Regions from separate parts of the Homo sapiens genome. Here all the other regions are linked to region 5. A link means that fine-mapping ties the variant in region 5 to the plasma level of a protein whose gene starts in the linked region. Region 5 holds a variant in brackets. A gene starts in each other region. All regions are shown on their reverse strands. Distances are between the middles of the regions.

Evidence for each region. PIP is the posterior inclusion probability: the model's chance that the variant is causal. Protein levels are from antibody-based Olink assays in UK Biobank. Linkage for the fine-mapping came from a reference panel and not from the study's own genotypes, which makes the PIPs less certain.
Region 1: it holds the start of KLK14, and the variant in region 5 is fine-mapped to the plasma level of the KLK14 protein (UK Biobank, PIP above 0.99).
Region 2: it holds the start of KLK7, and the variant in region 5 is fine-mapped to the plasma level of the KLK7 protein (UK Biobank, PIP above 0.99).
Region 3: PLA2G2A starts here. The variant in region 5 is fine-mapped to the plasma level of the PLA2G2A protein (UK Biobank, PIP above 0.99).
Region 4: it holds the start of ENO3, and the variant in region 5 is fine-mapped to the plasma level of the ENO3 protein (UK Biobank, PIP 0.96).
Region 6: it holds the start of PLA2G1B, and the variant in region 5 is fine-mapped to the plasma level of the PLA2G1B protein (UK Biobank, PIP above 0.99).

What each region holds. Positions count from the first base shown.
Region 1 is chr19:51,082,502-51,087,351 of GRCh38, reverse strand. It overlaps KLK14 (kallikrein related peptidase 14), which reads left to right and starts at 4,465. Exons shown (of 6, transcript NM_001369775.2): 1 at 4,465-4,630; 2 at 4,716-4,777. The coding sequence starts at 4,738. RefSeq lists a silencer at 466-760.
Region 2 is chr19:50,982,502-50,987,389 of GRCh38, reverse strand. It overlaps KLK7 (kallikrein related peptidase 7), which reads left to right and starts at 3,473. Exons shown (of 6, transcript NM_005046.4): 1 at 3,473-3,539. RefSeq lists an enhancer at 3,184-3,738.
Region 3 is chr1:19,977,337-19,981,336 of GRCh38, reverse strand. It overlaps PLA2G2A (phospholipase A2 group IIA), which reads left to right and starts at 1,719. Exons shown (of 5, transcript NM_001395463.1): 1 at 1,719-1,757; 2 at 2,458-2,603; 3 at 2,813-2,957; 4 at 3,216-3,322. The coding sequence starts at 2,564. RefSeq lists an enhancer at 2,576-3,075.
Region 4 is chr17:4,947,775-4,952,692 of GRCh38, reverse strand. It overlaps ENO3 (enolase 3), which reads right to left and starts at 1,574. Exons shown (of 12, transcript NM_053013.4): 1 at 1,511-1,574; 2 at 779-865. The coding sequence starts at 863. It overlaps PFN1 (profilin 1), which reads left to right and starts at 4,163. Exons shown (of 3, transcript NM_005022.4): 1 at 4,163-4,430. The coding sequence starts at 4,299. RefSeq lists enhancers at 308-1,042, 3,204-3,373 and silencers at 2,424-2,653, 2,704-3,113, 3,574-3,823, 3,954-4,293, 4,564-4,633 and 1 more.
Region 5 is chr12:7,482,629-7,487,576 of GRCh38, reverse strand. It overlaps CD163 (CD163 molecule), which reads left to right. Exons shown (of 17, transcript NM_203416.4): 8 at 1-218; 9 at 591-683; 10 at 764-1,078; 11 at 2,161-2,481; 12 at 3,902-4,210; 13 at 4,573-4,611; 14 at 4,815-4,934. Among named protein-coding and RNA genes, the nearest start is that of CD163, 19 kb to the left of the region's middle. The variant C/T (reference allele first, on the strand shown) is at 2,404.
Region 6 is chr12:120,324,804-120,329,751 of GRCh38, reverse strand. It overlaps PLA2G1B (phospholipase A2 group IB), which reads left to right and starts at 1,973. Exons shown (of 4, transcript NM_000928.3): 1 at 1,973-2,032; 2 at 3,732-3,891; 3 at 4,691-4,818. The coding sequence starts at 1,999. RefSeq lists an enhancer at 4,017-4,076.

The DNA.
Region 1 (4,850 bases), not on the chromosome of region 5:
GGGAGGCCAAGGCAGGCAAATCACTTCAGCCCTGGAGTTGGAGACCAACCTGGGCTACATCGTGAGACCCTGTCTCTACAAAAAAATACAAAAATTAACTGACTGTGGTAGCACGTGCCTGTAGTCCCAGCTACTCAGGAGGCTGAGGTGGGAGGATGGTTGAGCCCAGGAGTTCAAGGCTGCAGTGAGCTGTGATTGCACCACTGCACTCCAGCCTGGGCAACAGAGTGACACCCTGTTTAAAAAGAAAAAAAAAAGCTCTCAACTTTCCTGACACTGCTCCCTCCTGGTGTCCCTCTTAGCTCTTCAATCACTCCTACCCCTGGCATAACTGTTTCTTACCCCCTGAGCTGTGAGTCTTCAGTGGGGTCCTCTCACTGTATACCCTCTCCCTAGGTGGGCTCCACACCGCTGGTATCCAGCACCATCCGTGCCGTGATGCCCCATCACTCTCCTGAGCTCCAGACCTGAGTATCCCGAAGGATTCTGCTCTCCCCTACTCAGGATCATGCCACCATCCCCCATCACCCTCGGAGTAAAATTCTCGCCCCTGCAGCACCAGGGCCCTGCTCATCTTGGCCACTCCTCTCTCCTACGCTCTGAGCTCTCTCACCATCCTCCTGCCCCACCATCCCTACTCGAAACCACTCACCTCCCTCCTACCCTCTCCACACACTGTCCATCCTCCCTGGCAAACTCCTATTCATCTGCAGGAACCTGCTAAGACTGCCCCTCCTCCTGGAACCCTTTCCCACACCTGAGGCTCCATCCAGCCCCTCAGCCTCCTCCAGGGGAGCACACGTGACACCAGATGGAGTTTCCTGTTGCCCCGCTGGCCTGTTTCACCAGACCGTGAGTTCACAGAGGAGCAGCGACTGAGGCTCTGTGTTCATTCATTCATCAGATGTTTATCGATGCCCGTGGCACAGCAAACAAGACCGTGCCAAGCAGGTGGTGGAGTGGTGAGCGAGATACCCTGGGAACCTAGCATGTGGTGGGAAGAGGGCCCAGCAACCTGGCCACGGCACGGCAGGTGCTGAGGTCCGGGCTGGGGACGGCAAGTCCTTGGGAGCCACCGGCGGTGAACTGGGCCTCATCAGCTGCATCTCCAGCTGTCTCCCTACCTTTGAGCTGAAGGCCTTGGGGAGCCTTCCAGTCATTCTGTGCCCTGGCTCAGGCTCTGCATAAACACAAGAACCCCCTCTTTATTTATTTGTTTGTTTATTTATTTATTTTGCAACAGAGTCTCGCTCTGTCACCCAGGCTGGAGTGCAGTGGCACAATCTCAGCTCACTGCAACCTCTGCCTCCCGGGTTCAAGCGATTCTCCTGCCTCAGCCTCCTGAGTAGCTGGGGCTACAGGCACCCACCACCATGCCCAGCTCAGTTTTTTTGTATTTTTAGTAGAGATTGGGTTTCACCATGTTTTCCAGGCTGGTCTTGAACTCCTAACCTCAGGTGATCCACCTTGGCCTCCCAAAGTGCTGGGATTACAGGCGTGAGCCACAGCACCTGCCCCCCTGCCACCCTTTAAAGAAAGGATTCTCTTGGATCTCAGGGATAGAGTGGCATGAAGGAGCCACTCCCAGGCTCCTGGGGGTTGACCAAGGCCTTCTGCTTAAGTAGGGTGTTCTTTTTAGGAACAGGGAGACCTTGTGTTTACTAGGAAATTCTGTTTTATTTTTAACTTTTTCCTTTGAGATAATTACAGACTCACAGGAGGCTACACACACAGCATAGGGAATCTCCCTCACCTACTTCTCCCCGTGGCGACACCTTGTGTAACTGTCGTTCAGAATGGAAACCAGGAAATCAACACAGAAACCAAACTATTAATGAGACTACAGATCACACTGCGCGTTCATTTTTCACACGCATTTCTTTGCACGTGTGTGTGTGCACGTGGGCTTCTGTGTCTCTTTATCTCATGTGTAGAATCGTGTAATCACCGCCACATCCAGTGCAAAGCTGATTCGTCACCACAGAGCAGCTCCCTCCTGCCACCCCATCCCTGGGTCCCAAGAGAACCCTTTCTTAAAAGAGGGAGTTCTTGACGGGTGTGGTGGCTCATGCCTGTAATCCTTGCACTTTGGGAGGCCAAGGAGGGTGGATCATTTGAGGTCAGGAGTTTGAGACCAGACTGGCCAACATGGTGAAACCCTGTCTTTACTAAAAATACAAAAAAATGAGCGGGGCATGGTGGTGGGTGCCTATAGCCCCAGCTACTCAGGAGGCTGAGGCAGGAGAATCGCTTGAACCCAGGAGGCAGAGGTTGCAGTGAGCCGAGATTGAGCCACTGCACTCCAGCCGGGGCTAAAGAGTGAGACTCTGTCTCAAAAAAAAAAAAAAGAAAAAGAAAAAAAGAAAAAAAAATAAAATAAATAAATAAATAAAATAAATTTAAAAATTTAAAAATAAAGAGGGGGTTCTTGTGTTGATGCCGAGCCTGAACCAAGGCAGAGGAGGCCGGGAAGGCTTCCCAAGGCCTTCAGCTCAAAGCAGGGAGGCCCATAGTTAAACAGAAACAGTTCAGGAATCACAGAAAGGCACCTGGGGAGAGATGGGTGTGTGGCTCCAGATGCAGGTGCCCAGACAGTGCGTCCCCAGGTGTACAGACAGACCCAGGCCAAGCTCCAGCTCAAAGAGCCAGCCTAGGGGGGTGCCGAGGTGGAGGGAGGCTGAGTCAGGCTGAGGCCGGGGAACAGTTGGGGTAGCCAAGGGAGGCAAGCAGCCTCCTGAGTCACCACGTGGTCCAGGTACGGGGCTGCCCAGGCCCAGAGACGGACACAAGCACTGGGGAATTTAAGGGGCTAGGGGAGGGGCTGAGGAGGGTAGGCCCTCCCCCAAATGAGGATGGAACCCCCCCAACTCCAGAACCCCCCTGCAGGCTGGCCAGAATCCTTCCCCATCTCATTCACTCTGTCTCTCCTGCTCTCTGCCGTCTCCTATTTTGAATTTCCAACCCCGTCTGTTAAGACTGTCCTTCTGTCTCTGAATCTCTGTCCCCTTCTCTTTCTGGGTCTCTCTCCCTCTCCCTCTGGGTCTCTGTCCCCCTCTCTGGGTCTCTGTCACTCTCTCTTTGCATCTCCAGCTCTCACTTTGTCTCTGCACCTAGCAGATCCCAAGCTGGGGAATGCCAGTTCTGGCACCAACCTTCCTGCTCCCTGCTGGGGCCTCTGCTCCCCCATCTCTCAGGAGTCGAAAGTGAGAAAGCAAGGTGGGCAGCTCTGCTCCAGGTCCAGGTATCTCCCGCCCACCTCCTGCCCGTCCTCTATCCCACCCCTCCTCTCCATCTCTCCCTGGCGCTGCCATCTCTCATCTAGGCCTCCGTCTCCTCTGTCATTGTCCCCATCCCCTGTAGGTGCCCATCCTTCCCGTCTCCCCTCTGCCATCGGCCTGCCTGTCCCATCCTCTTTCTCCCACCATGTCCCGTTCTCTTCCACGTCTCATGCCCGCACTGCCTTCATCATCATCGCTGTTGTTCTGTGTGTGTTTGTGGTGAGTGCCGCATGGTGGGGGCGTCTCGGCCTCTCTCCTCTCTCTCCACTGTTTTCTCTTTCTGTGTGTCTGTTTCCATTCTATCTCCACCTTCTTCCCTCCGTCTTTTGCTTTTCTATCTCCACTTCTCCACACCCCTCTCTCCCTGCGTCTCTGTGTCTCCCTCTTCCTCTGTCTTGTTTTTTTCCCACCGTCTGCCTCTTCTGTTCCCTGTCACATCCAACTTCCACCGGTTTCTCCAGCTCTCTCCTCAGTTCCTTCTCTCATGAGCACACCTGCCTCTGTGCTCGTATTCCTGGACTCCTCTCTCTCCACTGTCATATCTTCTCATTCATTTTCCCAGTCTCTCTCTGTCTCTTGCTCTCCCCCTCTCTGTCACTCTGTCTCTGTCTCTCTCTTTCTCTCTCTCTCTCTGTGTCTCTCTGTCTGGCTCTCTCTCTGTCTCTCTCTCCATCTCTCTCTCTCTCTCCCCCCCGTCACCCTGTCTCTGTCTCTCTCTGTCTGTGTGTCTCTCTGTCTTTCTCTCTCTCCATCTCTCTCTGTCTCTCTCTCTCTCTCTCTCTCTCTCCCTCTCTCCCTCCTCCCGTGACTCCCTCTCTCAGTCCATCTCTTCCTCCCTCTCTCAGCCCCTTCGTGCCCTTTCCTCTGACACTCCCCACCCTGGTTTCCTGACTCCACCACTAGATCCACCACCTCCAGCAACTGGGAACCCTCCCCTGCCCACCCTGCCCTGGGGTCCCCTCCCAGGATTCCTTCTAGATTATAGCATCTTCCCTGGGCGGGTTCTCATGAACAATTGTGGCTGCTTTTTTGGCCAGACAGGGGAGGGAGGGGATGGGATCAGGGAGTCCTGGAATGGGAACTAGGCAATAAAAAAAAAAAAATGTCAGAAGCAGGGCGGCGGGAGGTGGGGGCAGGGCCAGCTGTCCTTACCAGGGATAAAAGGCTTTGCCAGTGTGACTAGGAAGAGAGACACCTCCCCTCCTTCCTTCATCAAGACATCAAGGAGGGACCTGTGCCCTGCTCCACATCCTCCCACCTGCCGCCCGCAGAGCCTGCAGGCCCCGCCCCCCTCGTCTCTGGTCCCTACCTCTCTGCTGTGTCTTCATGTCCCTGAGGGTCTTGGGCTCTGGGTAAGTGCCCCTTGCTGTCTCTGCCTCTCAGCCCCCGGTTCTGTTGAAGGTTCCTTCTCTCTCACTTTTTCTCTGCATTTGACAGGACCTGGCCCTCAGCCCCTAAAATGTTCCTCCTGCTGACAGCACTTCAAGTCCTGGCTATAGGTAAGAGAACGGTTGGGTATGACACAAGGGGGTCCCCTGGAGACTCTGAGAAGAGATGGGGATGGGTCCTTGG
Region 2 (4,888 bases), not on the chromosome of region 5:
GCCTCAGTGGTCTTCCCCTCCTCCTCATTGGCCAGAAGAACAGCACATGTCCATTTTCCAACTAATTAAGCAAACGAAATATGGCTTCAATGCTTGGTTCATTGAGGCTTATAGTCCTGATGAGGATAAAGTATTATCCAAACAAAATGGAGCCTCTGATAGAAAGGCAGAAGGAGTGAATGCCTGGGGACACAACAATAATGTCTACTATTATGGGTCAAATGTAGAATCGAGTTGGGGTGCCAGGCGTGGTGGCTCACACATGTAATCCCAGCACTTTGGGAGGCTGAGGAAGGCAGATCACCTGAGGTCGGGAGTTAGGGACCAGCCTGACCTACATGGAGAAACCCCATCTCTACTAAAAAAAAAAAAAAAAAAAATTAGCCAAGTGTGATGGTACATGCCTGTAATCCCAGCTACTCGGGAGGCTGAGTCAGGAGAATTGCTTGAACCTGGAAGGCGGAGATTGCAGTGAGCTGAGATCGCACCACTGCACTCCAGCCTGGGCAATAAGATCAAAACTCCATCTCAAAAACAAAAACAAAACAAAACAAAGCAAAAAAAAGAATTGAGTTGGGGTCAGGATTGAGATAAGTTTTAGGTCCAGGGTGGAGAAATAAATCCCATTTTGGGGATATAATTTAGAGGTTGAGGTCAATTCCAACTTTAGAAGTGTGTCCAACAATGGTTCCTGTCTTACTCAAAATAAAAGCCAAAGACCTTTCAGACCGCATGTCATCAGAGTCCTGTTATATTTCTGGCCTCATCACCTGCCCTCATCTCCTTTGGTCACTCTGTATTGGTCGCAGTGATTTGTCTGCTGAGGCACTTCAGATATGCTCCTTGGCTAACACACCTGCCTGCTCGCTTTGCCTGGAACTCACTACCTTCAAGCAGCCACCTGGATCCCTCCACCATCTCCTTCAAGACTTTGCTCAAATATCACCTTCACGTGGGGTCTTTGCAGCCAACCTTCCTGATATTATAACCTCAGGGATCCTCGAGGGTAGAGGGAATCAGTAACTCCCCAACCCTCTTCCTTGCTTGGATTTTCCCTTATAGCGCTTACAACCACCTAACAAACTCTACATTTTATTTGCTTATTTTTGTGCTGACCTGACAGTACAAAACAAAAACCTCTATGAAGACAGAAATTTTTCTCTGTTTTATCACTGCTGTGTCTCCAAGAGCCTGAATAGTTTCTGGCACAGAGTAGATGCTCAATGGATGCTGTTTGAATGACTACAATGAACAAAGATGAATGTACAAAGAAGTTCATCTCAGCATTATTATAATTAAAACTATCCAAGTGTATTTCAATTTGAGGCAGATGACATGCATCATGATACAAGTATAGTATGGAATATTACACAACCATTATAAAGGAAGGAAAAGTAATCTAAATGTACAAAGAGGGAAAAGTTTTCCTCTTTTTAAAAAATAAATGTTATTGTGTATATTTAAAGTGTACAATATGATCATATGCGATGTATATACATAGGACAATGATTACTATAGCTGAACAAATGAACATGTCCATCATCTCACATAGTTACCCATTTTCCTCCCCTGTGGCAAGAGCAGCTATAATCTACTCATTTAGCAAAAATCCTTGGCTGGGCGCGGTGGCTCAGGCCTATAATCGCAGTACTTTGGGAGGCCGAGGCCGGTGGATCACCTGAGGTCAGGAGTTGGAGAGCAGCCTGACCAACATGGTGAAACCCCATCTCTACTAAAAATACAAAAATTAGTTGGGCATGGTGGTGCACGCCTGTAATCCAGCTACTCAGGACTCTGAGGCAGGAGAATCACTTGAACACGGGGGAGTGGAGGTTGCAGTGAGCCGAGATCGTGCCATTGCACTCCAGCCTGGGTGACAGAGCCAGAGTCCATCAAAAAAAAAAAAAAATAAGAAAGATTCTTCTCTCCTCTATGTGTCCATGCAGTCTCATCATTTAGCTACCACTTGTAAGTAGGAACATGCCATATCTGGTTTTCTGTTCCTGCTTTAGTTTGTAAGGGTAATGGCCTCCAGCTCCATTCACGTCCCTACAAAGGACATGATCGTGTTCTTTTTTATGGCTACGTAGTATTCAATTGTGTATACGTACCACATTTTCTTAATCCAGTCTATCACTGATGGACATTTAGGTTGATTCCCTGTGTTTGCTGTTGTCAATAGTTCTACAATGAACGTACGTGTCCATGTGTCTTTAAACAGAATGATTTATATTCCTTTGGGTACACACACTGGGGCTTATGAGAGGGTGGAGAGTGGGAGGAAGGAGAGGATCAGAAAAAAATAACTAATGGGTACTAGGCTTAATACCTGGGTGATTAAATAATCTGTATAACAAACCCCCATGGCGCACGTTCACCTACGCAACAAACCTGCACATCCTGCACATGTACCCCCGAACTGAAAAGTTAAAAAAAGAAAAATAAATATTTGCTTATAAATTAATAAATGAAGCCCTCAAAAATGTTCTATTAGATAATGTTAAGTACAGACATTTTTGTTATAAATACATAATATACAAAGAAATCTATGTATAACATGATTAAAATGACCATAAGAACATAGATCCTAAACATGGCAAATATTAGTGGGGTGGGGTTAGGGAAAGCGTTGTTTTTAACTTACACCTCTCTGTTAGAGTTGGGAATGGGTTCAGGCGTAATTACAGGCACGACTGGGATCAGCTTGGACAAGTTCCCCCAGGCGGGCCAGAATTAGGATGTAGGGTCTAGGCCACCCCTGAGAGGGGGTGAGGGCAAGAAAATGGCCCCAGAAGCCGGGCGCAGTGGCTCACGCCTGTAATCCCAGCACTTTGCGGGGCCGAGGCGGGCACATCATGAGGTCAGGAGATCGAGACCATTCTGGCCAACATAGTGAAACCCGGTCTCTACTAAAAATACAAAAATTAGCTGGGAGTGGTGGTGCGTGCCTGTAATCCCAGGTACTCGGGAGGCTGAGGCAGGAGAATCACTTGAACCTGGGAGGCGGAGCTGGCAGTGAGCCGAGATCGCGCCACCGCACTCCAGCCTGGCGATAGAGAGAGACTCCATCCAAAAAAAAGAAAGGAAGGGAGGGAGGGAGGAGGGAAGAAAGAAAGAAAACCGCCCCAGAGAAGGACCCGAGCCAGAGCCTATTCTCTGAGCTCAGCGACTGCTTGAATCCCGCTCCTGCCCCTCAGACCCAGCGCACCGGGTCCCTCCCCCGAGAGCAGCCAGGAGGGACTGTGGGACCAGAATGTGCGGGGGCGCAGGAGCTGGGCACCGCCCGTCCTTCGGAGGGAGGGTGGAGAGAGAGTGCAGTGGTGCCAATTGCTCTCGCTGCGTCAGGGTTCCAGATAACCAGAACCGCAAATGCAGGCGGGGGTGTCCCAGAGTCGGCTCCGCCTGCACCCCAGGGCGCTGGGGCCGGGCATGGGGCGGGGGGTGATATAAGAGGACGGCCCAGCAGAGGGATGAAGATTTTGGAGCCCAGCTGTGTGCCAGCCCAAGTCGGAACTTGGATCACATCAGATCCTCTCGAGGTGAGAAGAGGCTTCATCAAGGGTGCACCTGTAGGGGAGAGGGTGATGCTGGCTCCAAGCCTGACTCTGCTCTCGAGAGGTAGGGGCTGCAGCCTAGACTCCCGGTCCTGAGCAGTGAGGGCCTGGAAGTCTGCAATTTGGGGCCTTTTAGGGAAAAACGAACTACAGAGTCAGAAGTTTGGGTTCCACAGGGAAGGGCAAGATCGGAGCCTAGATTCCTGGGTCTCTAGGGATCTGAAGAACAGGAATTTTGGGTCTGAGGGAGGAGGGGCTGGGGTTCTGGACTCCTGGGTCTGAGGGAGGAGGGCCTGGGGGCCTGGACTCCTGGGTCTGAGGGAGGAGGGGCTGGGGGTCTCGACTCCTGGGTCTGAGGGAGGAGGGGCTGGGGGCCTGGACTCCTGGGTCTGAGGGAGGAGGGGCTGGGACCTGGACTCCTAGGTCTGAGGGAGGAGGAGCTGGGGCCTGGACTCCTGGGTCTGAGGGAGGAGGGGCTGGGGCCTGGACTCCTGGGTCTGAGGGAGGAGGGGCTGGGGCCTGGACTCCTGGGTCTGAGGGAGGAGGGGCTGGGGCCTGGACTCCTGGGTCTGAGGGAGGAGGGGCTGGGGCCTGGACTCCTGGGTCTGAGGGAGGAGGGGCTGGGGCCTGGACTCCTGGGCCTGAGGGAGGAGGGACTGAGACCTGGACTCCTAGGTCTGAGGGAGGAGGGACTGGGACCTGGACTCCTGGGTCTGAGGGAGGAGGAGCTGGGGGCCTGGACTCCTGGGTCTGAGGGAGGAGGGGCTGGGGCCTGGACTCCTGGGTCTGAGGGAGGAGGGGTTGGGGCCTGGACTCCTGAGCCTGAGGGAGGAGGGACTTGGACCTGGACTCCTAGGTCTGAGGGAGGAGGAGCTGGGGGCCTGGACTCCTAGGTCTGAGGGAGGCGGGGCTGGGGGCCTGGACTCCTGGGTCTGAGGGAGGAGGGGTTGGGGCCTGGACTCCTGAGCCTGAGGGAGGAGGGACTTGGACCTGGACTCCTAGGTCTGAGGGAGGAGGAGCTGGGGGCCTGGACTCCTAGGTCTGAGGGAGGAGGGGCTGGGGGCCTGGACTCCTGGGTCTGAGGGAGGAAGGTGCTAGGGTCTGGACTCTTGGGTATGAGGGAGGAGGAGGTTAGGGGTCTGGACTTCTGAGTGTAAGGAAGGAGAGGCCAGAGAAAGGAATTTCTGGGTCTGAGGGAGGAGGGGCTGGGGTTCTGGACCCCTAGGTCTGAGGGAGGAGGGGCTGGGGCCTGGACCCCTGGGTCTGAGGGAGGAGGGGCTGGGGCCTGGACTCCTGGGTCTGTGGGGGGAGGGGCTGGGGCCTGGACCCCTGGG
Region 3 (4,000 bases), not on the chromosome of region 5:
GCCCAACAGGGTTGATTCCTTCTGAGGGCTGTGAGGGAGAATCTGCTCCATCCCTCTCTCCTAGCTTCCAGTGTTTTCTGGTAATCTTTGCCATTCCTTGGCTTGTAGAAGCTTCACCCTGATCTCTGCCTTCATCTTTGTATGGCCTTCTCCCAGTGTGCCTGCCTGTCTCCAAATTTCCCATTTTTGTAATGACATCTGTCATCTTGGATTAGGGCCCATCCTAGCTGCCCTAGTGATCTCCTCTTAACTAATTATATCTGCAATGACCCTATTTTTAAATAAGATCACATTCTAAGGTACCGGGACTCCAACACAGGAACTGAGAGCAGGAAGGAGGACCACAGTCCAACCCCTTACACAGTCGAGCACTGGAGGTAAATGGTATTCTCGAGAGGAAAGCTGTTTGATGGCTCTTGGGATAGATTAGGTTATGCTCCAGCAACTGCCCATCTCAATTATCATCAGCTTAATACAACAAAAGTCTATTTCTCACTCACACTAAGACCCCTGTGAGCTGCAGGACTTTCTAGGACAACTGTCTTCCGTGCCATGATTCTTACACCCCAGATTGCTTTCATCTTCTGGTTCTACCAGTGGGGCAGGGAAGGGCTGGGGAGTTGCATCTCATAGTCCCCTTGCTGGAGAAACCTGGAAGTGACCCTTCATACCAGTGCTCATGTTTTACCAGTCAGCAGCAGGGCCCTAGGTCTCCATCCCTGCAAGGGGCTCTAGAGTGTAGGGAACAGATGGAATGTTCACAAGCACCACAGCCCCTGCCACAGTGACTTTTTTAGGACTGGTATCGCAGAGTGTTTACTTAAGGCGGTGGAAGCTAAATTCTTAGCATGTGCTGGAGAGCAATGAAAAAGATATTTACTTTATGAATTAAAGCTGGAGTCAGTGTCAGCCCGAAGGCTGAAGGAAAAAGAGCAACAGATCCAGGGAGCATTCACCTGCCCTGTCTCCAAACAGGTGAGGATGGGGAATAAAGTGAAGGCAGTGCTTTGGTGGGAACTTCAAGGATAGCCTCTGGCTTTTTCCAGGTTTAGAAGCTCATATGAGACAGGGGTGGAGGAAAAGAAGAAAGAAGAATAAGAAGAGAAAGTTGAGGCCCTGGCCCAAGTTAGTGGGAAGGGAAATCCACCCCCATTAAACTCTCTCCCTGGTGGACTGTGGGGTGCACACGTGAGGCCTGCACAGGTGCTGGAACATGGTAGAGGCCCAGGACATACTTCCTGTGAATGAATGATTGAGCGGCTGAATGAATGAGTACCACTAAAAGCCCTCTTTTCTATTCCCAAATGCCACATTGAGCAGAAGGGAGCAATCCTTGCTCAGCAATTGGTAGTCCCTTTGGGTGTGCAAATGAGTCCACAGCCTGCAACAGCAGACAGTCTCTGCCCCCCTTAGAGGCGATTGCAGGGAGGTGGCTGACCGTTGATCACACCCAGAGCTGGTTATGGGAATTTACTCCATGGAAAGACTGCAAAACTGCCTGAAATGTGTTTTGGCATCAGCTACTGACACGTAAGGTTTCCCAATCCTCAACTCTGTCCTGCCAGCTGATGAGGGGAAGGAAAGGGATTACCTAGGGGTATGGGCGACCAATCCTGAGTCCACCAACTGACCACGCCCATCCCCAGCCTTGTGCCTCACCTACCCCCAACCTCCCAGAGGGAGCAGCTATTTAAGGGGAGCAGGAGTGCAGAACAAACAAGACGGCCTGGGGATACAACTCTGGAGTCCTCTGAGAGGTAAAGAGCCAGCGAAGCTGATGTCCTGTCAAGAGCAGAATTCCTGCTCATTCGCTGCCTTTGAGAGTGGCTGTGTTGTGCATGCATGTGCATGATTTGATATGTATGAGAGGGTGTGTGTGCATGAGTGTGTTGAGTGAGTATGTGAGTGTAGTGTAAGAGAGGATGTTGGCACTATCAGGTAAGTACGAGAGTGTGTGTATGTGGGCATAGGTGTGTTAACATGTATGTGTTTGGGAACTTGTGTATGTGGAAGGGGTTAGAAGGCCTAGAAGAGAGAGGTTGATGCTTTCATTCTGGAGGAAAATACTGAGGCCGAGCCTCCATGGGTGCCTTGGAGACTCCAAGCCTTGAATCCAGTGTGGGGATATGCAAGCTATGTCTAGCGAGGGACACATCCTCTGACCTCAGGAACCTCCCAGGTAGTTGGGAGGAACCTGGTTCCAACCTCCCAAGAACTCTCAGTCTGATGAGGTACAGGGGAGGTCTCATTAGTGTATCATGGGGTTCTCCACAGGTCTGAGGGCCTGATGTGTGTGAAACCATTCTGCAGAGCTGGGAACGGGTCAGGAGGTGGTTGTGTGTGTGTGTGTGTGTGTGTGTGTGCATTGCTGGAGGGCACTCCTTGTGTGCTCTGAGTGTGACAGAGGAAGTCACCCTGGACTTAGGTTGGATGGGAGAGCATGTCTGTGTGTCTCAGAGCCACCAAGGAGGAGCAGGGGAGCGACGGCCGGGGCAGAAGTTGAGACCACCCAGCAGAGGAGCTAGGCCAGTCCATCTGCATTTGTCACCCAAGAACTCTTACCATGAAGACCCTCCTACTGTTGGCAGTGATCATGATCTTTGGTAAGAGCTGACCCTGACCTCTGAGCATGGGGGGACAGCCCCAGAAGGGAAGCACTCTTGTCCCTTAGTTTTCTCTCCCATTGCAGTGATCCTCTCTCAGGGGGAAAAAAGAAGCCATTTGGGAGGAAGGAGAGTAGCAGAGAGGGGCAGAGAGGGAGGGCGCAGAACCCCATGCCCCATCACCAGACAACTCCCAAATTTCCTTCCAGGCCTACTGCAGGCCCATGGGAATTTGGTGAATTTCCACAGAATGATCAAGTTGACGACAGGAAAGGAAGCCGCACTCAGTTATGGCTTCTACGGCTGCCACTGTGGCGTGGGTGGCAGAGGATCCCCCAAGGATGCAACGGATCGGTGAGGCCACCTATCCCTCCCTACCCTCCTAGACTCTGGCCCAGGCAGGGCTGGGAGCTGCAAAGACAGTGCCGGTTCCTGATGGGCGCAGAGGTCTCAGGATGGCCTGGCTGGAAAAGCAGCCGGCATGTTGGAACTTCTGCTCTAGACTGTTGCAAAGTCACTGGGTCTCTGCCCAGGGTCCAAGGGGGTGAGACCACAGGCACCAGGCCTCCTGGAGCTGTGGGACAAGAGCCCCAACAGGGTGTCTCCTCACAGCTGCTGTGTCACTCATGACTGTTGCTACAAACGTCTGGAGAAACGTGGATGTGGCACCAAATTTCTGAGCTACAAGTTTAGCAACTCGGGGAGCAGAATCACCTGTGGTAAGAGTCCTACCTCACCATCGAGTGGCCCTCATTTGTTTAGACAGTGCTGGGGACTGTGCTGGGCACCAAAGATAGACACAGAGGGACACAGTTCCTGCTTCAGGAAGCTCACGGTTGAGTGGGAAGCCAGGAAAGTGAAAATCCAATGTAGTAAAGACTCCAGTGGGAAGTAAACAAACAGATAAGGCATTAACACAGCCTGAGGCTTGAGGAAGGCTCCTGGAAGGGGTGACCCCTAAGCTGAGTCTGAAAGGCTGTGCAGAGAGTCAGGGAAGAGGAGGGAGCATTCCCAGAAGAGGACACAGCATGGTCAAAGGCACTAAAGGGCACTGTAAGCCATTCTGTACTGCCCAGCAGAAACATGAGGAAGAGGAGCAGTGCTGAGCCATGATGCTGGAGACATAGGAAGGAGCTAGGTCAATCCGGCCCTCCAGGCCGGGCTGTATTTAGGTTTTGCCCTAAAGCAATAGGATGCTATTAAGCAAAGGAGCTACAGGGTCAGATTTGCATTTTAGATGACTCACTGTGGGGACAGGGTCGATGGAGACAAGTGGAAGGGGGGCAGAGAAAGCTATTGCCATCATGCAGGCAAGAGGGAGTAACATCTTGACATAAAACAATGGAGGTCAGGATGGGAAAGGTGGAGAAAAAATCAAGATGCATTTGAGATGGAAT
Region 4 (4,918 bases), not on the chromosome of region 5:
ATCAGGAGTTCAAGACCAGCCTGGCTAACATGGCGAAACCGTCTCTGCTAAAAATACAAAAATTAGCTGAGGCCGGGCGCGGTGGCTCACGCCTGTAATCCCAGCACTTTGGGAGGCCAAGGCGGGCGGATCACGAGATCAGGAGATCGAGACAATCCTGGCTGACACCGTGAAACCCCATCTCTACTAAAAATACAAAAAATTAGCTGTAGTCCCAGCTACTCGGGAGGCTGAGGCAGGAGAATGGCGTGAACCCGGGAGGCGGAGCTTGCAGTGAGCCTAGATCGCGCCACTGCACTCCAGCCTGGGCGACAGAGTGAGACTCCATCTCAAAAAAAAAAAAAAAAAATTAGCTGGGCGTGATGGCACAGGCCTGTAATCCCAGCTACTTGGGAGGCTGAGGCACAAGAATCACTTAAACCCGGGAGGCAGAGGTTGCAGTGAGCTGAGATTGCACCACTGCACTCCAGCCCGGGCCACAGAGCGAGACTCCATCTCAAAACAAAACAAAACAAAAAAAAGGACCTCACAGGGAGTCTCTCTACCTCTCAAAGGGCTGAGGTGTCCTCTCTGAGCTCAGGGACAGGAGGCAGTGCAGAGAGAGACTCCTGCTTCTCCTAGCTTCCAGCTCTGGTTCCACGTTGGAAGAAGGGGGCTTGGGAAGAAGTCTGGGAAAGGGAACCCGAGAGAAAGGAGAGGATATGGCACAGAACTGGGGGGCAAAGGCCAAAGGGTTGGGGTCTTCGGAGGCGAGCCTATCCAATGGGCCTTGTGTTACCCTTGGCCGTGTGCAGGTCCACCTCCACCGTGGGGTTGCCCCTGGAGTCCAAGATTTCCCGGGCAAAGATTTTCTGCATGGCCATGGCTGCAGGACAGGAGGTGTGAGTGAGTGTAGACAGTTGATCTCTTAAGGAACCAGAAATCCCTTGCCCTTTAAGATTCTTCCCCACTCCAAGAAGGCAGGTGCTGGAGCTAAAAATACCCTACAAAAAGGTCACAGACCAAAGAGGCAGGCGCAGCCCCCTCCCCCACTCAGAACAGCTCTTATTCCACCCTCCCATCCTAAGAATCCAGGGGCCTCTTATCTATAGCTCCTGGGATGCCACCGCTCACCAAGCCCCCACCTCCCCCAAGCCTCCACTTAGGCCTTCTCCTTCCACCCCTCTGGTCAAGCAGTCTGTTCTCCATGGCTGGTGGCCTTCAAATCCTTTCTGGTTCTCATTTTCCTGCTCCGAAATCTCCTTGGGCCCCCAATTCCCTATCAGGTTCCAGCTCTAGCTGCCCTTTTCTATCCATCCCTGCTGCCCTCCTCACAGCCTCCTTTCCCTAGATCCTTCGGTGTTCCCAGAGTTTGTCCCATCTGCTTGCTCCAGCCGCCCCTTCCCCCAGCTTTTTCAAGCATCTCCAGTCCCAGGAGGAAAAAAAGCAGAAATGTCCCCCACTTCCTCCAAGCCAATACCATGCTCACCCTTTACTACCTCCACCCCCAGGGCTGGAAGATTCACCCGACCTGGGATGTCTTCGCTGGAGGTTTGGATGGAGCTCCGAGTCTAGGTGGCAGCTGGGACAGTGTCAGCTCACCCCCTCTCAGGCTGCGCATTTATCCCTGAGCCACTCGGTCCCCAGCCAGCCCCGCCTCTCTTTCTCTCCATCCTCCCCCCTTCACACTGGGCTGGCAGCCAAGTGCCCACTACAGCCTGAAGCAGAAGCCTCTGGCCCTGGGCACCTGCCCCCTTACCAAAGGTCAACTACTATCCCCCACTTTCTGTCTCCCAATAACAGTCCCTGTTCTAATTCCACCCTTTGGGAGGAGCAAGGGAGGGGCTACAGATGAGGGGTCTCCCCCCACCCCAGGATTACATTCCCCTTTTGCAAACGTCAAGAGGAATGAGTGACCTTTAGGAAAGGCCAGGGGTAACCTGAGCCCTGCAAGGCTGGGGAGGGGGCCTGGAAGAGGGGCTGCAAGATTGACGTCCACACATGCTCAGATCGCTGGGCGGGCCTCTGTCCTCAGTGGGGGAAAGGACGGGACCCCCCACCCCAGAAGGCGAGAGGGTCTCACCTCTTAGGGTCCTCATAACGGCCATTCTCGGCGCCGCCCCATCCTACCCTCTCCAGGCCAGCCAGCGCCGGGATGAGTTAGGGGACAGGAAACGAATTTAGACAGGCCCTTTCGGCTGGCAAGGCGCCCGACTGATAACGCTGGGACAGCACTTGTCGCCCGGCGTGGGGACTGTCGGTCAGAGCCCCTTTCCCCATCGACTGTGGGCGCTCAGCGCACGGCCCCAGCCCATCAATGAATGGGGCTGAATCAACAGTGAACAAAAATGAATGGACCGAGGACGGGTGGCCTTTTGTGAGCTTCTGCACGCCTGGGGCTCTTCCGGCGCCCCACTTGTAGCACTGCGGGGAGGTAGGTCTCTGCCCTCGGTAGAGATCTCCACTTTGCCGGCTCTGGGGCCAGTGCGGGGTCTGCCCCGAGCTCCTCTGCAGCCATACCAGCCGACCGGCGGGGGACACACGGCGCCTCGGCCCGACTCGGAGGCCCTTCCCGTCGGCGCCGGGGCAGCGCGCGCCCGGTGACTCACCCCCGCCGCCCTCTCCCCACCCCTGCTCCCCGCCCCGCCGGCCCGCGCGGCCTCCCAGCCCCCACCCCAGGCCACCTGCCCCGCCACCCGTCCAGTCTCCCCTCTCGCCCCGCCCCCTCATCTCAGGCCGCTCCTCCCGGGATTTTTCCACCCTGGGGTAGGGGTGCGGTGGGCCAGGGGTCAGGAGATGGCGGGCGGGGAGCGCCGCCACGTGCCCGGGTGCGGCCCCGCCCGAGCCCGCCAGTGACTCAGCCGCGCGGCTGTCGAGGAACACGGACTCGAGGGGCGTCGGGGACTGTGGGATTCGGCGTGGACGCCAGGGATGCGCGCCGCGCTCGGGAGGAGAGAGAAAACCAACCCCCTTTCCGCCCGGGCCGCGCTCGGTGACCCCTTGCCCCTAGCCCAGGCTCCGGAAGCCGCCCAGCCCTCGGCGGCGGGTCGGAGGAGGCGGTTTCACCGCGGCCGCCGCACGGCCGTCCCGCCCGTCCCGCCCTCCCCAGGTGGCTGTGAGCGCACATCTGACTGCGAAGAAACCCAAAGGGCCCGAAGTGGGACTTTCCCCTTCTTGAAAAAGTTGCCACTCTTGCAACTTGAGTATTCTTCCGCCTCGAAAAATAGCCCCGCCTGTTAAGCCCCGCGGGTGTCCGCGCTCTGTGACCTCTGCAGACACAGGCCAAGGGGCACGGCCGGTGATCCAGACATTGCCTGCCTGGGGCGGGCGGGGCTGGGATGTGGGGTGAGGCCCTGGGCTAGAGCCGATCCAGAGAAGGGACAATCCTCTAGACTGAGAATGGGCCCTGGTGAACCCAACCTGCACGACCCGAGAAGACGCTGGGGACAGAAGTGGCCCCGGTGGGTGCCTTCAGCTATGAGAGCGACTAGAGGATTTGGCCAAACTCTTCTTTGCTTTCTTATTACTTGAATAAGTAAAATCAAGGGTGGTGAGGCGGCAGCGCGCACGGCTTCGCCCCCGCCCCTTCCGCCAGGCGGGAGACACGTCCCCAGCCCGCCTTCCTTTCCCGCAGGGTCCACACGGGTCGGGCCGGGCGCGCTCCCGTGCAGCCGGCTCCGGCCCCGACCGCCCCATGCACTCCCGGCCCCGGCGCAGGCGCAGGCGCGGGCACACGCGCCGCCGCCCGCCGGTCCTTCCCTTCGGCGGAGGTGGGGGAAGGAGGAGTCATCCCGTTTAACCCTGGGCTCCCCGAACTCTCCTTAATTTGCTAAATTTGCAGCTTGCTAATTCCTCCTGCTTTCTCCTTCCTTCCTTCTTCTGGCTCACTCCCTGCCCCGATACCAAAGTCTGGTTTATATTCAGTGCAAATTGGAGCAAACCCTACCCTTCACCTCTCTCCCGCCACCCCCCATCCTTCTGCATTGCTTTCCATCGAACTCTGCAAATTTTGCAATAGGGGGAGGGATTTTTAAAATTGCATTTGCAAAGTTCGGTGTCTGGGCTGGCGAGTGGGGGAGGGAGGGAATGGGGAGTAGGCCCCGCCCCTACCGTCCTTTGCAAATAAAAATCTAGCGGGGCGGGGGGGGGGAGGAGCAGGAAGTGGCGGTGCGAGGGCTGCTGCACAGCGAGCGGAGCCGCGGTCCGGACGGCAGCGCGTGCCCCGAGCTCTCCGCCTCCCCCCGCCCGCCAGCCGAGGCAGCTCGAGCCCAGTCCGCGGCCCCAGCAGCAGCGCCGAGAGCAGCCCCAGTAGCAGCGCCATGGCCGGGTGGAACGCCTACATCGACAACCTCATGGCGGACGGGACCTGTCAGGACGCGGCCATCGTGGGCTACAAGGACTCGCCCTCCGTCTGGGCCGCCGTCCCCGGGAAAACGTTCGTCAACATCACGGTACTGCGAGGCCTGCGCGGTCCGGGGCACTGCTCCGGTTTGGACCCTGAGGGAGGGACTTGGGTGGGGGCGGGCGCGGTCTAGGGCGCGCAGCGAGAGGCCCTGACTGGGTGCTTGCCCTGGAAGCGGCGCGAATGGCGGCTGCACGTGAGTGGGTCCCTCAGTTGCCCGTAGGTCCTATGCCCCAGGCGGCGGCGCCCATCCCGCCCGCTACCCCGCTTTCCGCGACGGGGCGTTACATCCGGGGCACAGGGCGGGGAGGGGCGCGGCGCCCGGTGCGGCGGCCCACTTCCGCCTCTCCCAGGGCGGGGCGGGGACGCGCCTCAGTTTTTACTGGGGATTGGGATTGAGAGGGGACCCGGGGATCCTTGGACCCCCAGCTCCCCGTCCGGCTGCCAGCCCGCGTCCCTCTACCATTGTTTCTCCTGGTGCGGAAGGGAGCCCCAGGCGCGTGGTCTTGGTCCCTTGCCCACCCTCTGTGGGCTTCT
Region 5 (4,948 bases):
CTGGGACATAGAAGATGCCCATGTTCTTTGCCAGCAGCTTAAATGTGGAGTTGCCCTTTCTACCCCAGGAGGAGCACGTTTTGGAAAAGGAAATGGTCAGATCTGGAGGCATATGTTTCACTGCACTGGGACTGAGCAGCACATGGGAGATTGTCCTGTAACTGCTCTAGGTGCTTCATTATGTCCTTCAGAGCAAGTGGCCTCTGTAATCTGCTCAGGTAAGAGGATGACGGGCAGCCAGTGATGGGTCTTAAGAGAAGGTGTACATAGGGATGAAGAACAAAAGTAAAACGCAGTGATCCATTTTGAAGGGTCATGAGAAGAATGAATACTAATTCATGCTTCAGAATATTAACCTCATTTGTCTTTTCAGAGGGTGAGCAAACCTAATTTTGATGGACTTCTTAGTTATCCAGTGCTTACTATGTGCCAAGCCCATCTCAAAGCACCTGATTTATTTCAAACTTGTTGACCATCCACCTTCCCCTCTCTCTCTAAGCTATGTTTGTCCTCAACTCATCCATATAACATTTCATCTGACTCCCCTAACCTTTTGTGTCTTGTATGACTGAGTACCTTGGTGTTTGCAGGAAACCAGTCCCAAACACTGTCCTCGTGCAATTCATCGTCTTTGGGCCCAACAAGGCCTACCATTCCAGAAGAAAGTGCTGTGGCCTGCATAGGTAAGACTCTGTGACAAATCTATGAAAATATTAATAACAAGTGGAATGCTCATTATTAATAGTTTCATTTCTCTTTGCAGAGAGTGGTCAACTTCGCCTGGTAAATGGAGGAGGTCGCTGTGCTGGGAGAGTAGAGATCTATCATGAGGGCTCCTGGGGCACCATCTGTGATGACAGCTGGGACCTGAGTGATGCCCACGTGGTTTGCAGACAGCTGGGCTGTGGAGAGGCCATTAATGCCACTGGTTCTGCTCATTTTGGGGAAGGAACAGGGCCCATCTGGCTGGATGAGATGAAATGCAATGGAAAAGAATCCCGCATTTGGCAGTGCCATTCACACGGCTGGGGGCAGCAAAATTGCAGGCACAAGGAGGATGCGGGAGTTATCTGCTCAGGTAAATTATGCATATGACCTTTGGTCATAATTACATAGAGAAAGGACTGAGGAAGGGTAGTGAGGGGTATTAATCTTAAAGATTTTCCTGAAAAGTTGATCCAAAAGGAACTATTGTGGGAGTCAGGACAACAGAAGTCTGGGTTTGATGTGCTAGTGGTACTTCATGAGCAAGGTAGTGCAACATTGTAAAGAGAAAAGACCAGAAATGGTCTTGTATATCATGAAAATGACAACAAAGTTAATAATGAAGGTTTTTAATAAATATATTTGGGGCCAGATATTAGATAGCGATCCAATAGCAACACTTGATAATTACAGTATTAGTAAAGAAGTAGATTTAAAGGGACAAGAAGAAATATATATGTTGCATCATTCTACAGAAAAAAAGATAATTACTATGCCCAAGCAATTTTTCATGGCAGATAAATGAGACTTACTTGTCATAGAAACAAAAAGTAGCATGAGGTTACTGCCCTCATACTGCTTTGTATACATGGTGAGTTTTAGAAAACATTCTGAAATTTAAAAATGTACTATTTCATATGTATTATGGGGAACAGAACTATGATTCAGTAACTTAAGGAAGTGAAAAACTCTGTATCTCAGAAGTGATTTATTCCTATTTTAATGACATAAATCTGGTAGAAGACATGCACTGCAAAACTGTGAAGTGTCAGCAAATGAACTGTCATTTTAAGAGATGTACACAAAACATTGATTTTAGTGCCTGAGTGTCTAACAATTTTAACTATCAAAGACAGTTGCAAAAAAAGGAGAATATTTTTGGGAAAAAATCCAAACTATGTAACTGAAAAAAGCCTATTAGAATGATTGAGGGTAATCTAAAGAGGACTCTGAGTCCAAAACCAAAGACCAAAAAACTATAATGTATTTATAGAATAAATAAAATATTTTAATAATATCTATGAAATCATCCAGAAGTTACTAACGAATTATTAGTAACTGACATATTGTACTATTGTACCTATTTTTAAAGCCATTCTTACATCAAGGTAAAGGGAAGGAGTCTCTGAATCTTCAGAAAAGATGCAAAACTACTAATTCTATGTTTCGCTGCAGAATTCATGTCTCTGAGACTGACCAGTGAAGCCAGCAGAGAGGCCTGTGCAGGGCGTCTGGAAGTTTTTTACAATGGAGCTTGGGGCACTGTTGGCAAGAGTAGCATGTCTGAAACCACTGTGGGTGTGGTGTGCAGGCAGCTGGGCTGTGCAGACAAAGGGAAAATCAACCCTGCATCTTTAGACAAGGCCATGTCCATTCCCATGTGGGTGGACAATGTTCAGTGTCCAAAAGGACCTGACA[C/T]GCTGTGGCAGTGCCCATCATCTCCATGGGAGAAGAGACTGGCCAGCCCCTCGGAGGAGACCTGGATCACATGTGACAGTGAGTATCCATCGACCTATATGAAAATTCCATTCTGCAGCCCCGCTATCATCTTCTGATAATGGACACTGGATTTTATTTTCCTATTCTCACACTGGCTTAAATTGTTAGATTGAATTAAGCAAGAATGGGTAACTTGTGGGTAATATCTATTCTACCTGGATAGTGTAACTGGTTTTATTTAATTTGGCCTGTAGATATTCAGGATCAGCTATTATTATTCTAAAGAATATCATACTCCCCATGGTCTGCTTGAAAGATTTATTCAATTGCTTTCTCTGAGGAGGAGAGAATATGTGGTTTAATATTTGACTGTTGAATGGTCTACCTTACCTTCCCATTTTTCTTTCAAATATTATCTTGTTACACTAATATAAGGAGAAAAGCAGTCAGAAATCAGAAAGATCAATTCTGAAGTATTTCCACATTCTACAGGTTTTTTTTTTTTTTTTTTTTGAGACAGAGTTTTGCTCTTGTTCCCCAGGCTGGAGTGCAATGGCGTGATCTTGGCTCACTGCAACCTCTGCCTTCTTGGTTCAAGCAATTCTCCTGCTCCAGCCTCCTGAGTAGCTGGGATTACAGGCATGAGCCACCATGCCCAGCTAATTTTGTATTTTTAGTTGAGATGGGGTTTCCCCATGTTGGCCAGGCTGGTCTTGAACTTCTGACCTCAGGTGATCCACCCGCCTTGGCCTCCCAAATTGCTGGGATTACAGGTGTGAGCCACTGTGCCTGGCCTCTACATCTTCTTAAACTGTGAGATTTGTGACAACCTGCCAGTTTCCCAAGATCTTGCCTATTTGAAAGAATTTGACATCACATATTTATAATGTTAACTTTAATCATTTAACATTTACTGGGTCACATTATGTATCTTATGTGCAGGATGGAATATACCTAGTTGGCTGTAATGACAAGTCCTCTTATAAAAGATAAATTTTGTAAAAATATAAATTTTAGGCCAGGCACGGTGGCTCACGCCTGTAATCGGACTTTGGGAGTCCGAGGTGGGCGGATCACGAGGTCAGGAGATCGAGACCATCCTGGCTAACATGGTGAAACCCCGTCTCTACTAAAAATACAAAAAATTAGCCGGGTGTGGTGGTGGGCGCCTGTAGTCCCAGCTACTTGGGAGGCTGAGGCAGGAGAATGGTGTGAACCTGGGAGGCGGAGCTTGCAGTGAGCCGAGATTGTGCCACTGCACTCCAGCCTGGGTGACAGAGCGAGACTCTGTCTCAAAAAAAAAAAAAAAAATATATATATATATATACATATATATATATAAATTTTAATATGCACATTCAGTAAAATTTTAAATAGTTTTTTTTTTTTTTTAAGTTTCAAATCTCTCTTTTCACCTGTGAACTCCTGGAAACTTTTAGAAGTCTTAGAAATAGGCTACATGTCTCTGATTTTTCAGACAAGATAAGACTTCAGGAAGGACCCACTTCCTGTTCTGGACGTGTGGAGATCTGGCATGGAGGTTCCTGGGGGACAGTGTGTGATGACTCTTGGGACTTGGACGATGCTCAGGTGGTGTGTCAACAACTTGGCTGTGGTCCAGCTTTGAAAGCATTCAAAGAAGCAGAGTTTGGTCAGGGGACTGGACCGATATGGCTCAATGAAGTGAAGTGCAAAGGGAATGAGTCTTCCTTGTGGGATTGTCCTGCCAGACGCTGGGGCCATAGTGAGTGTGGGCACAAGGAAGACGCTGCAGTGAATTGCACAGGTAAGTGCCAGAAGCCTGGATTGAGCTTGGAATCTCTGGCAGCAAAGAGGGGTTGGGCAGTGATGTGTGTTGTGTAAAAACCGGATTTATCAGCACAGGGATCTGGTGGGGATTCTCAGAGAATCATAATGTCTCTACTGAAAGAATGATGAAAACAATTGTTATACAACGGCCTTCACCAAGGAGACACATACAACCTATATTCCCTGTGCAGAGAAAGAAAGACTAGAGGACTCTAGTTTTAGGTGGGAAAGAGTCATATACTTGGTTGAGAGGTACTAAGGGGTCAGACAAGGAAATCAGAAGGCTTGTTCTATATATCATGCAAAGAATTAACCCTCTCTCTTTCTTTTCTCCTACAGATATTTCAGTGCAGAAAACCCCACAAAAAGCCACAACAGGTATATCATGGAGTTTATGATGATGAGACCAATTATCTGCATACATAGAATTTTTCTTGTTTAGAAATTTTAGGTCAGACGTTCTGAGGATTTGATATTTACCTCAGGGATCAAGTATTTGACCTAAGAGAGAATCAGTAACTAGGGACCTTGATCTTTTCGATAAGACATGATCATATCTCTTGATATTTACTTTTACTTAGGTCGCTCATCCCGTCAGTCATCCTTTATTGCAGTCGGGATCCTTGGGGTTGTTCTGTTGGCCATTTTCGTCGCATTATTCTTCTTGACTAAAAAGCGAAGACAGAGACAGCGGCTTGCAGGTTTGAGCCAAATT
Region 6 (4,948 bases), 110 Mb before region 5:
TGGGAGGCTGAGGAGTGGATCACCTGAGGTCAAGAGTTTGAGACCAGCCTGACCAACATGGTGAAACCTTGTCTCTACTAAAAATACAAAAATTATCCAGGCATGCTGGCAGGCGCCTGTAATTCCCAGCTACACGAGAGGCTGAGGCAGGAGAATCGCTTGAACCTGGGAGGCGGAGGTTGCAGTAAGCCGAGATCGTGCCATTGCACTCCAGCCTGGGCGACAAGAGCGAAACTCTGTCTCAAAAAAAAAAGAGAGAGAGAGAGAGAAGCAGATTAGCAGTTACCAGGGGCTGAGGGAGTGTGACTGCTAATGGGTACAGGGTTTCCTTCTGGAGTGATAAAAATGTTCTGGAACCCCATAGAGGTGATGGTTGCACAACACTGTGAAGGTACTAAATGCCCCCGAATTGTTTACTTAAACGTGGTTAATGTTATGTGAATTTCAGCTAAACAATGTTATGTAGATATTTGGCCGGGCGCGGTGGCTCACGCCTGTAATCCCAGCATTTTGGGAGGCCGAGGCAGGTGGATCACGAGGTCAGGAGATCGAGACCATCCTGGCTAATGCGGTGAAACCCCATCTCTACTAAAAATACAAAAAAAAAAATTAACCGGGCGTGGTGGTGGGTGCCTGTAGTCCCAGCTACTTGGGAGGCTGAGGCAGGAGAATGGCATGAACCTGGGAGGCAGAGCTTGCAGTGAGCCAAGATCGCGCCATTGCACTCCAGCCTAGGCAACAGAGCAAGACTCCGTCTCAAAAAATATATATAAATAAATAGATATGTGATGTGACAGGTTTTTTTTTGAGATGGAGTTTTGCTCTTGTTCCCTAGGCTGGAGTGCAATGGCGTGATCTCAGCTCACCGCAACCTCCGCCTCCAGGGTTCAAGCCATTCTCCTGCCTCGGCCTCCGGAGTAGCTGGGATTACAGGCATAAGCCACCATGCCTGGCTAATTTTGTGTTTTTAGTAGAGACAGGGTTATTCCATGTTGGTCAGGCTGGTCTCGAACTCTCCACCTCAGGTGATCTGCCAGCCTCAGCCTCCCAAAGTGCTGGGATTACAGGCATGAGCCACCGTGCCTGGCCTCTGATATGACAGTTCTAATGCCCTTTAGTATTCTATAATTCAGACTCAGGCCTTTGGAATCCAAAGCCCAGGTTTTTCTCACAAACCCACACTGCAGAGCGGAGTGGTGGAAAAAAATAAAACCTCTGCCTTGGAATCAGACAGATCTAAACTGGAGCCCTATTTTGTCATTTGCCAACTGTGTGACCTTGGGCAAGTTACCGCAACTCTCTGAACCTGTCTCTTTATCTGCAAGGTGCACGACTGATGGGACTATTCAACCAGACCCAGTGCACAGATTCAGGCACTTGATAAGACATTGAGGCTGCAGGCAGCGATCTTTTTTCTTTCTTTCTTTTTTTTTTTTTTTTTTTGAAATAGGGTCTCACTCTGCTGCAGAGGCTCAATCACTGTTCATTGCAGCCTTGACCTCCCTGGCTCAAGAGATCCTCCCATCTCAGCCTCCTGAGTTGCTGGGATCACAGGTGCAATCCACCACCACACCTGGTTAACATTTTTTTTTTTAGAGATGAGGTCTCTCTATGTTGCCCAGGCTGCACTTCCTTCTTGTCTCCCTTATCCCAGCGTCCGACTGAACTGACGGCTTTGCTTTCCCCAACCAGCCCGTGAAGCTGGGCTGAGTACAAAGTGGTGGGTATGAGGGTCAAGATTGTAAGATCTGAAAACTCCAGAAACCATCCCTTTGGTTAACAGTTGCTAAGGACAAATGCATAACATATTTTCCAGTGATCCCATGCTGGCAAATCGTCAGGGTCATTCCTGCAACAGACAGATTCAAGGCCAGCCCCAAACTCAGCCAAGAGCAAAGCAAACACTCCAGCCTTATCTGGGCAGGGTTGTGTGGAGACTGACTATAAGACTATACCTGAGACTGGTCATCTCAGTTCTTTTCTCACCTTGACTGCAAGATGAAACTCCTTGTGCTAGCTGTGCTGCTCACAGGTAGGCAAGTCTCCCCGGCTCCACCCGCCTTTCTCTCCCAAGTGAGCTAAGATCTCACTCCTCTGGAATGGGGGCCACAGGCCACAGCAAACAGGGATGGCCAGCCCCGCAGTCTCAATTCGAGGTTCCCAGTGGGGCTTAAGGGCTCCTCTATTGGGGTTCCCTCAAGGCTGGCACTTTTTCAACCTGCAAGTCTGAACTCAGATTGCCTGAGCTAAGAAAGCTTGCCTTTATTTTCTTTTTTCCAGACAGGGTCTTGCTCTATCACCCAGGCTGGAGTTCAGTGGCATGATCATAGCTCACCACAGCTTCCAACTCGTGGGCTCAAGTGATCCTCCCACCTTACTCAACTAAGTAGTTAGGCCAATCTCCCATTTATTTTATTTTATTTTAATTTTTATTTTTATTTTACTTTATTTTATTTTTGAGACGGGGCTCACTCTGTCGCCCAGGCTGGAGTGCGGTGGCGTGATCTCAGATCACTACAACCTCCATCTCCTGGGTTCAAATAATTCTCTTGCCTCAGCCTCTCAAGTAGCTGGGACTTGTAGCTCTCAAGTAGCTGGCACACACCACCATGCCCAGCTAATTTTTTGTGTGTTTTTTTTGGTAGAGACAGGTTTTCACCATGTTGGCCAGGCTGGGTGACCTCCCTTTTAGATTCTCCTCATCCTGCTCTATTCTTCCCCTTTCTAATGCAGTATCCAGTTTCCTTACTTATCACATTTATTATTATTCTTATTATTATTGAGACAGAGTCTTGCTTTGTCGCCAAGGCTGGAGTACAGTGGTGCGATCTCGGCTCACTGCAAGCTCCACCTGCTGGGTTCACGCCATTCTCCCGCCTCAGCCTCCCCAGTAGCTGGGACTAAAGGCGCCTGCCACCACGCCCCGCTAATTTTTTTGTATTTTTAATAAAGACGGGGTTTCATCGTGTTAGCCAGGATGGTCTCGATCTCATGACCTTGTGATCCGCCTGCCTCGGCCTCCCAAAGTGCTGGGATTACAGGCATGAGCCACCGTGCCCGGCCTTATCACATTTATTATTTATTGTTTTTCTCTCCCACTAGGTTGTAAGCTCCATGAGGTTAGAGATTATTATTATTATTATTATTATTATTATTATTATTATTATTATTATATCTGTTCACTGCTGTATCTCTAGCTCCTAGGACAGAGCCTGGCACATAGTAAGTGCTCAATAAATATTCACTGGATAAACAGTGCAGATAGTTTAAAACTATCTGACCTAGGGAGGCTGAGGCAGGAGAATGGCGTGAACCCGGGAAGCAGAGTTTGCAGTGAGCTGAAATCGTGTCACTGCACTCCAACCTGGGCAACAGAGCAAGACTCCATCTCAAAAAAAAAAAAAAAACTATCAGGCCTAGCTGGGTGGCACATGCCTGTAATCCTAGCTGAGGCGGTAGGGTCCCAGAAGAAGAAGAAGAAGAAAAAGAAGAAGATATATATATATATACACACACACAAAGATATAAACTTTATATATATAAAGTTTTCATTAAAAAAAAAAAAAAACCTCTACCCACTTTCACTTTACCAGGTTCCTGGGTCCAACGGTCTTCAGAGGAGGCAGCTGGCAGGGGTCAGGGAGGCAGCGTGGGACCCGAGGGAGCAGGAAGGCAGTGTGTCCCCGGGGTGCTGGCAGACCGATTTGAACTCTGGCTATGTCTTCTTGCAGTGGCCGCCGCCGACAGCGGCATCAGCCCTCGGGCCGTGTGGCAGTTCCGCAAAATGATCAAGTGCGTGATCCCGGGGAGTGACCCCTTCTTGGAATACAACAACTACGGCTGCTACTGTGGCTTGGGGGGCTCAGGCACCCCCGTGGATGAACTGGACAAGTAAGTGATCCGCCTGCAGGAAAATTGGAGTGCCTGCCGGGGGCGGGGTGGGGCACACGCCAAGGATCTCACGAGGCATACAAAGGGGACTTGCATATCTGCTAAGGATAACATATTTTCACCTCTTGTCAAATAAACAAATATGTTCCAAGAGGACCCTGTAGCGAACGCACCCCGTTAGAGATGGAAACAATGACCGACGTGCAAAACAGTGGGCGATGCTGCCCTCCAGTGGCAGAATGTAGCAACAGTAAACATCACAGCAACTATCCACGTGTCATTTTCTAGCAGTGGTTGTCACTGCACCTTCTGAATACAGGATTTTACTGTATTCTTGCAACCATGTTAAAAATCGCTTTCAGGCCAGGCGCGGTGGCTCATGCCTGTAATCCCAGCACTTTGGGAGGCCGAGGCGGGCGGATCACTTGAGGTCAGGAGTTCGAGACCAGCCTGGCCAACATGGTGAAACCCTGTCTCTACTAAAAAATACAAAAATTAGCCGGACATGGTGGCGAGCGCCTGTAACCCCAGCTACTTGGGAGACTGAGTTGGAGGTTTCAGTGAGCCAAGGTCGTGTCACTGCTGTCCAGCCTGGGTAACAGAGCAACTCTGTCTCAAAAAAAAAAAATGCTTTCAATAAATATATGATAAAAGGACTTATATTTTTTCAAGCCATAGGATCATTTCTCCTGAAGCATCTTGGCGAAGTCATCCCCACCTGTTCCTGAGAGTGGGCAGGTGAGGGCTGACCTATTGCTCTGCACTTACTCCTATCTCAGCTGTCCCTCCCACTTTCCAGGTGCTGCCAGACACATGACAACTGCTATGACCAGGCCAAGAAGCTGGACAGCTGTAAATTTCTGCTGGACAACCCGTACACCCACACCTATTCATACTCGTGCTCTGGCTCGGCAATCACCTGTAGCAGTAGGTTTATCCCTTCCTTGACCTATGAATTCTAGTTGGTTCTCAGTAGGCCGGGGGGAAATAATAGTAACAACAGCCATGATTTAGTGTTAATTTTCTTGGTTCTGGGCAGTGTCTCCTTTAATCCTCA